Linked DNA regions of Homo sapiens. The protein of the gene in region 2 purifies or fractionates together with the protein of the main gene of each other region. This does not show direct contact. Each region holds a gene or a part of one and is shown on either strand. Other genes may lie near its edges.

Region 1 (3,653 bases), on a different chromosome or scaffold from region 2:
CAAGTGATTCTCCCATCTTAGCCTCCCAAAGTGCTAGGATTACAAGCATGAGCCACAGCTCCTGGCCCTAAAGTAATTTAAATGAGAATATTTTTTCTTGTTTTCTGTAATTTTTCATTTCCCATTTACTCTTCAACCCATTCTAGGATGGTTTGTGCCCAAGTACTTGACTGAAATGGCTGTTGTTAAAGTCACCAGTGACCTTCCTTTTTTTTTTTTTTTTTTTGAGATGGAGTCTCACTCTGTTGCCCAGGCTGGAGTGCAGTGGTGCGATCTCTTGGCTCACTGCAGCCTCCACCTCCCAGGTTCAAGTGTTCGAGTGATTCTTGTGCCTCAGCCTCCCGAGTAGCTGGGATTACGGGTGCCCACCACCATGCCTGGCTAATTTTTGTATTTGTAGTACAGATGAGGTTTCACCATGTTGGCCAGGCTGGTCATGAACTTCTGGCCTCAAGTGATCCACCCTCCTAAGCCTCCCAAAGTGCTGGGCTTACAGGTGTGAGCTATGGGCCCCAGCCACCAGTGACCTTCTTCTTGCCTAATCCACCTTGTTTCTCTGTGCTTGTCTTTCTGAATTCAGTGGTATTTCACATAGTAAACCCTCTCCTCAAAAAACTTTTTTTTTTCATGGCTTCTGTGATACCACATAACACTGGTTTTCTTCCTATTTCATTGACTGCTACTTCTTAAAGGTCTCCTTTTATGAAACTCCTCTCTTCTACCTTTAAATACTAGAGGGCCCCACTATTAAGTTCTGGGCCCTCAGCTATAACTACAGTTTCTTCCTTTGTGACCTCATCTGTTCTATAGCTATCATTCCAAAGTTCATGTAAAGCATAGACCTTTCACCTGAGTTTCAGACTCTATTTCGATGTCTAATAAATAAGTTGAACTTACCTTGTCTAACAAGGAGTGTTTGATCCCTCCCCACCCCAAACTGTTTTTTTCCATCTCAGAAGATGGCACCGCTATCTACCCATTTGCTCAAGCCCAAAGCCTGAGATTCACTCACAGTCCACCCTCTCTTTCCTCATGTCCCACATCAGCAAAGTCTATCATCTCTAACTTCAAAGTGTTTCTAATTTTTCTATTTCTCCCTCTCCCTCCCCCTCTCTCCCTTCCTCCTGTCAACATCTGGTCCAAACTATCATCATCTATTGCCTGTACTACTGCCTAGACTATTCTCCTATAAGCCATTCTTTTCAGAGCAATCTTGTGGTCATTTAAGAAAATCATAAGTCATGTCACATTCCTGCTTAAAACTCTCCAGTGGCCTCCCTTTATAAATATGTTGAAATCCTAACCCCTTAGCATGGTTTACAACAAGCTCTTATACTTTCTGACCCCTACACTTCTCTCCAGTCTCATGTCATACCACCCTCTGCCATGTTCACTACATTTCAGCCACAGGCCTTCAGTTTCTTCTTTCAGTACAGTAGACTCTCCCAGTCTCCTGGACTTTGCCTTCTTTTTTTTAAATTGAGATGGAGTTTCCCTCTTTTGCCAGGCTGAATGCAGTGGCACGTTCTCGGCTCACTGCAACCTCCACCTCCTAGGTTCAAGCAATTCTCCCGCCTCAGCCTCCCGAGTAACTGGGATTACAGGCGTGCACTACCATGCCTGGCTATTTTTTGTATTTTTAGTAGAGATGGGGTTTTGCCATGTTGGCCAGGCTGGTCTTAAACTCTTCACCTCAAGTGATCTACCTGCCTTGGGCTCCCAAAATTCTGGGATTACAGGCGTGAGCCACCGCACCTGGCCTGACTTTGCCTTCTTTTTCCCTTGGTCTGGAATATACTCCTGCAGGTCTTCACATGACTGGTTTCTGTTCACCATTCAGGTCTTGCCATTCAGTTGAAAAGTGACTTCCACAGAGGCTTTTTAAAGTTAAAGTTTAGGCTGGACGTGGTAGCTCACGCCCATAATCCCAGCACTTTGGGAGGCTGAGGTGGGCGAATTGCTCGAGCCCAGGAGTTCAAGACTAGCCTGGGCAATATAGTGAGATCCCATCTCTATAAAAAATATTTTAAAAAATAAATAAAGTTGAAGTTTACATTTAAAGTTACCCTCCCCATCTAGCCTTCCACCATCTATTCACTTCTGATCTTATTTTCCTATTTTATTTTATTTTAGAACTCATCACTTTCTGAAAGTATCCTACTTGTTTATTTACCTATTCACTAGAATCCTTGAGAGTGAGGACCTTATCTGTTTGTTCATCACTATTTCCTTAGCAGTTAGAATAGTGTGTGATGTCATCACATAGAAGATGAGGGTAAAAAAAGAAAAAAAAAAAGAAAAAAAGAATAGTGCCTGATACATAGTAGGCCCTAAAGAAATATTTGGTGAGTAAATGAATAAATTTCATTTTCTCTAGGCTGTAAGATCTTTGAGGTCAGAGACTGTTTTTTGCAGTATTGTATCCCAACTCCTAGTGTGGTGTCTTATCATGGTACAAACAACTTAATATTTTAAAAGTTGGGCTTATTGCCAGCCATGGTGTGCACACCTGTAGTCCCAGCTACTCAGGAGGCTGAGGTGGGAGGATTGCTTGCACCCAGGGATTCAAGACTGTGGGGTGCTATGTTTGTGCTTGTGAATGGCCCCTGCACTCCAGCCTGGACAACATACTAGACTCTGTCTCAAAAAAAAGTACACACACACACAGGCACATTTTAAAAATAAATTTGGATTTACTGAGGTATCTTTTACATATGGTAAAAGTCACCCTTTTCCTTGGCTACTGGATACCATTAAAAAACATTTTTAAAATGTAAAAGTAAAGTCAGTATTTTTAATTGTATAGTTCTGTGAGTTTTGACAAATATATCCAGTTGTATAAATAATACCACAGTGAGATACAGAACATAATAAATGTTTTCTTTGTAATAAGTGAATCGCTAACAAAATCAGTAATCAACCATCAGTATTGGTGCTGTGTGGGCACTACCAGCTGATCAGCCTCACTGTTATTAACATAGTTTATTTGTCATGCAGGTGAACGGGAGGTTGGAACAGAGGCCAAAATGCTGCTCTTGGCCCGGGAAGATAAGAAACTTCAGTGCTTGGGACTACAGAGCAGGCAGCTGGCAAGTGGTTCCTATATGACCTTTGAACTCTGAGGCAACCTGGGTCACTCTGTGTCTTAGAAAGCTATTTTGGAAACATTTCTACTTGCTCCCTGTGTTCACTTTTGAGAAGGCTGCGTGAGTAAGAGGCAGTACAGTGTAATGATTAAGAGTTGTGGGATTTGGAATAAGGGCAACATTTAAATCCCAGTTCTTTTTTTTTTTTTTTTTTGGAGACAGAGTCTCACTCTGTCGCCCAGGTTGGATGGAGTGCAGTGGCGCAATCTCGGTTCAGCTCACTGCAACCTCCACCTCCTAGGTTCAAGTGATTCTCCTGCATCAGCCTCCTGAGTAGCTGGGATTACAAGCCCACCACCATGCCTGGCTAATTTTTGTATTTTCAGTAGAGACGGGGTTTCACCATGTTGGCCAGACTAGTCTCAAACTCCTGACTCAAGTGATCCGCCTGCCTCAATCTCCCAAAGTACTGGGAGTACAGATGTGAGCCACTGAGCCCAGCCCTGAATCCCAGTTCTTGTGCAGCACTTGCAGAGAATAAAAAAATAAAATAAATCTCAGTTCTTC
Region 2 (3,653 bases):
TTCTATTCAGCAAAGTACAAGAAGTTATAGCCAGAGCAATTAGGCAAGATAAATAAATAAAAGGCATCCAAATCGGAAAGAAAGAAGTGAAAATTTCCCTGTTTGCAAGTGATGTAATGTTTTATTAATATATAGAATAAAGTTTCCACCAAAAAACTGTTAGAATGAATAAATAAATTCAATAAAGCTGCAGGATACAAAATCAGTGCATAAAAATCCGTAGCATTTCTATACACTAACAGTGAACTCTGAAAAAGTAATCAAAGATACATTCCCATTTACAATAGCATTCAAAAAAAATTAAATATTTATGAATAAATTTAAGGAGGTGAAAGATCTGTACACTGAAAACTATAAAAACTGATGAAGGAAATTGAAGAAGACACAAATAAATGGAAAGGTATCCTATGTTCATGGATTGGAAGGATTAATATTATTAAAATGTTCATGCTGCCCAAAGCACTATATAGATTCAGTGCATTCCCTCCAAAATTTTTAAATTTAATGACATTTTTCACGAAAGCAGAAAAAATAATTTTTAAATATACATATTTCAGAATACATTGTTCACAATAAAGATATATGATTTTTTGTCAGTTAAAAGTTAATTTTTTTAAAAAGATACCTATAGCCTCTTATTGAGGTGGAATCTGTTGCTCTTGGAGCTACGTACTGTTGACTTTGGTTTTCTGGAAACATCAGTGCTATTTAGAACATTAGGATATTTTTCTTTTTGAATATCAACAAAAACATAAATAAAAATACTAGTAATGACATTTACAGTATGTTTCACAGATTAATCACATCTCTGAGTGGGAGTCTTTATCTGTTGTAGGATCTACTCTTGCCATTCTATTCTGGGTTTTGGTTGATTAGTCTTTCTTGAACACTTCCAGAAATTGGAGATGTATGCCTGCCTTAGGTAGCCTAGCTTATTTTATTAATGAACATATCCATTTAAAAATTTCTTCCTGGTAATGAGTCTAAACTTGCCTTCCTGTAATTTGTATCCACTGGTCCTTTTTCTTTGTTCTCCCTCTTGCATATGCCAGTACTTCAATAGCTGGTCCCAGCTCCATTGACGCCCTCTCTCAGGATCACACATCACAGGTCCTTCAGAATCTCCTAATGGTCTCTCTGATCTCCAGGCAACACACTACTCTAACCTTTCTATGCTTTTCTGGCCTGCAGTTCATTTCTGTTCCTGTGAAGTCATAGAGCCCGCAATTCATGCTGTCTTGTTCCCCTATTAAAATATATTTTTGTAAATCTCTTTAGGATTCGTGAAGTTTTTTGGAAACCTGGCTGTCATGGATAGTCCTCAACAGATCTGTGAGCGTTATCCTATCTTTGTGGAAAAAGTCTTTGAAATGATAGAAAGTCAGGACCCCACTATGATTGGTGTAGCTGTAGACACAGTTGGAATCTTGGGATCCAATGTTGAAGGAAAACAGGTTTTACAGAAAACAGGTTGGTATGACTTGGCCCTGTTCAGGGATATCTTAATCTTTGACAGGGGTTCAATATGTAAGTTCATTTGCTGGTGGGTTAACTACATTGTAGAAACTATTTTATGGGTGGCAGTCTTGTTAACCATGACCTTGTACTCATGTCTGAAAATCTAATAATTATTACGGAAAACCTTTTTTTTTTTTTTTTTGACTTTTCACTGGTTTAGGTTTTCATTGGTTTAGGTTTCTACCAATCGATTTCAACCAAACATTGTTTCCTGTTTCCCCTCTATGATGTCTTCTTTGACTAGATTTCATGGTACAAAGACCACGGGCTAGAGTCAGAAAGGTCTGGATTCATGTCCTTGGGTTTTCTATTCTTTTTTTTTTTTTTTTTTTTTTTAAGAGATTGAGAGTGTCTCTCTGTTACCCAGGCTGGCCCCGAACTCCCGGGCTCAAGCAATCCTCCTGCCTCATCCTCTTGATTGGCTGGGTCTACAGGTCCACACCATTGTATCCAGCCCTGACTTTGCTTTTTGAACTTCATTTACTCACTTCACTTTTCTAGGCCTCATTTTCTTCATTTATAAAAATGGCATAACAACTGCTTCTCAGGGTTGTTGTGAATATTTATGAAATTTTGAGAAAGGAAAATAAAAGTTTGTTATAAGATTTCATGTTAAGAGATACTTTTGGCATGTTAAGAGATACAATGGTTCATGCCTGTAATCCAGCACTTTGGGAGGCTAAGGTGGGTGGGTTGCCTGAGCTCAGGAGTTCAAGACCAGGCTGGGCAACATGGCAAAATCCTATCTCTACTCAAGAATACAAAAATTAACCAGGCATGGTACTGCACAACTGTAGTCCCAGCTACTTGAGAAGCTGAGGAAGGAGAATCTCTTGAACCTGGCAGGTGGAGGTTGCAGTGAGCTGAGATCATGCCACTACACTCCAGCCTGGGTGACAGAGTGAAATTCTATCTCAAAAAAAAAAAAAAAAAAAGAGGCCAGGTATGGTGGCTCATGCCTGTAATCCCAGCATTTTGGGAGGCCAAAGCAGGTGGATCACTTGAGGTCAGGAGCTCGAGACCAGCCTGGCCAACATGGTGAAACCCTGTCTCTACTAAAAGTACAAAAATCAGCCAAGCGTGGTGGTGCATGCCTGCAGTCCCAGCTACTCGGGAGGCTGAGGCAGGAGAATGGCATGAACACAGGAGGTAAAGGTTGCAGTGAGCCGAGATCACACCACTGCACTCCAGCCTGGGCGACAGTGCGAGACTCTGTAAAAAAAAAAAAAAAGAAAGAAAGAAAGATACTTTTATGGAACATCCATGAGGATCAACAGCACAACAAATTTTACACACAAAATAATATGCAGCCCAATTATTAAAATTCTTGAGACACATATGTTGAAAATTATCTCACCTGTAATCCCAGCACTTCAGGAGGCCAAGGCGGGAGGATCGTTTGAGCCCAGGAATTCAAGACCAGCTTCGTCAACAACAACAACAAAAAAAATTAGCCAGCTGTGGTGGTGCATGCCTATAGTCCCAGCCACTCGGGAGGCTGAGGTGGGAGAATCATTTGAGCCCAGGAGGTGAAGGCTGTAGTGAGCCTTGATCACTCAGTTGCACTGCAGCCTAGGTGACAGAGTGAGACCCCATCTCAAAAAAAAAATTTAAAAAGAGGCCAGGCGAGGTGGCTCATGCCTGTAATCCCAACACTTTGGGAGGCCAAGGTGGGTAGATTACCTGAGGTCAAGAGTTCGAGACCAGCCTGGCCAACATGGTCTCTACTAAAAATACAAAAATTAGCTAGGTGTGATGGCAGGCGCCTGTAATCCCAGCTACTCGGGAGGTTGAGGCAGGAGAATCGCTTGAACCTGGGCCGTGAGTCGAGATTGCGCCATTGCACTCCAGCCTGGGTGACACAGCAAGACTCCATCTCAAAAAAATAAAAATTAGAAAATAGAAAAAGAAAAAAAGAAAATTAATACGCTGTTGTGTATCACAGCTAATATTTTTGTTATATGTCGTTTTCTAAGTGCTTTTACCTATGACAATCGTTTTACAGTCCTGCAAAGAACATACATTGTCATTTTCATTTTCCAGATAAGGTAGATGAAACTTAGAGGAGTTAAGAAAATTTCTAAGGTCATACAAATTATGGCAGCTGCTACTCAAGTCCAGGTCCTTTGATTCCA

Evidence for each region. The genes of interacting proteins can lie anywhere in the genome.
Region 1: the proteins of PSMD5 (region 2) and PAAF1 purify together in Homo sapiens (affinity purification with mass spectrometry; 2 studies listed by BioGRID and IntAct, with this or other methods). This does not show direct contact.

The regions. Positions count from the first base shown.
Region 1 is NC_000011.10:73,911,416-73,915,068, forward strand, and holds part of PAAF1 (proteasomal ATPase-associated factor 1), read left to right. Parts: intron 1-2,997; coding exon 2,998-3,089; intron 3,090-3,653. UniProt on the Homo sapiens protein: Inhibits proteasome 26S assembly and proteolytic activity by impairing the association of the 19S regulatory complex with the 20S core.
Region 2 is NC_000009.12:120,822,311-120,825,963, reverse strand, and holds part of PSMD5 (26S proteasome non-ATPase regulatory subunit 5), read left to right. Parts: intron 1-1,278; coding exon 1,279-1,470; intron 1,471-3,653. UniProt on the Homo sapiens protein: Acts as a chaperone during the assembly of the 26S proteasome, specifically of the base subcomplex of the PA700/19S regulatory complex (RC).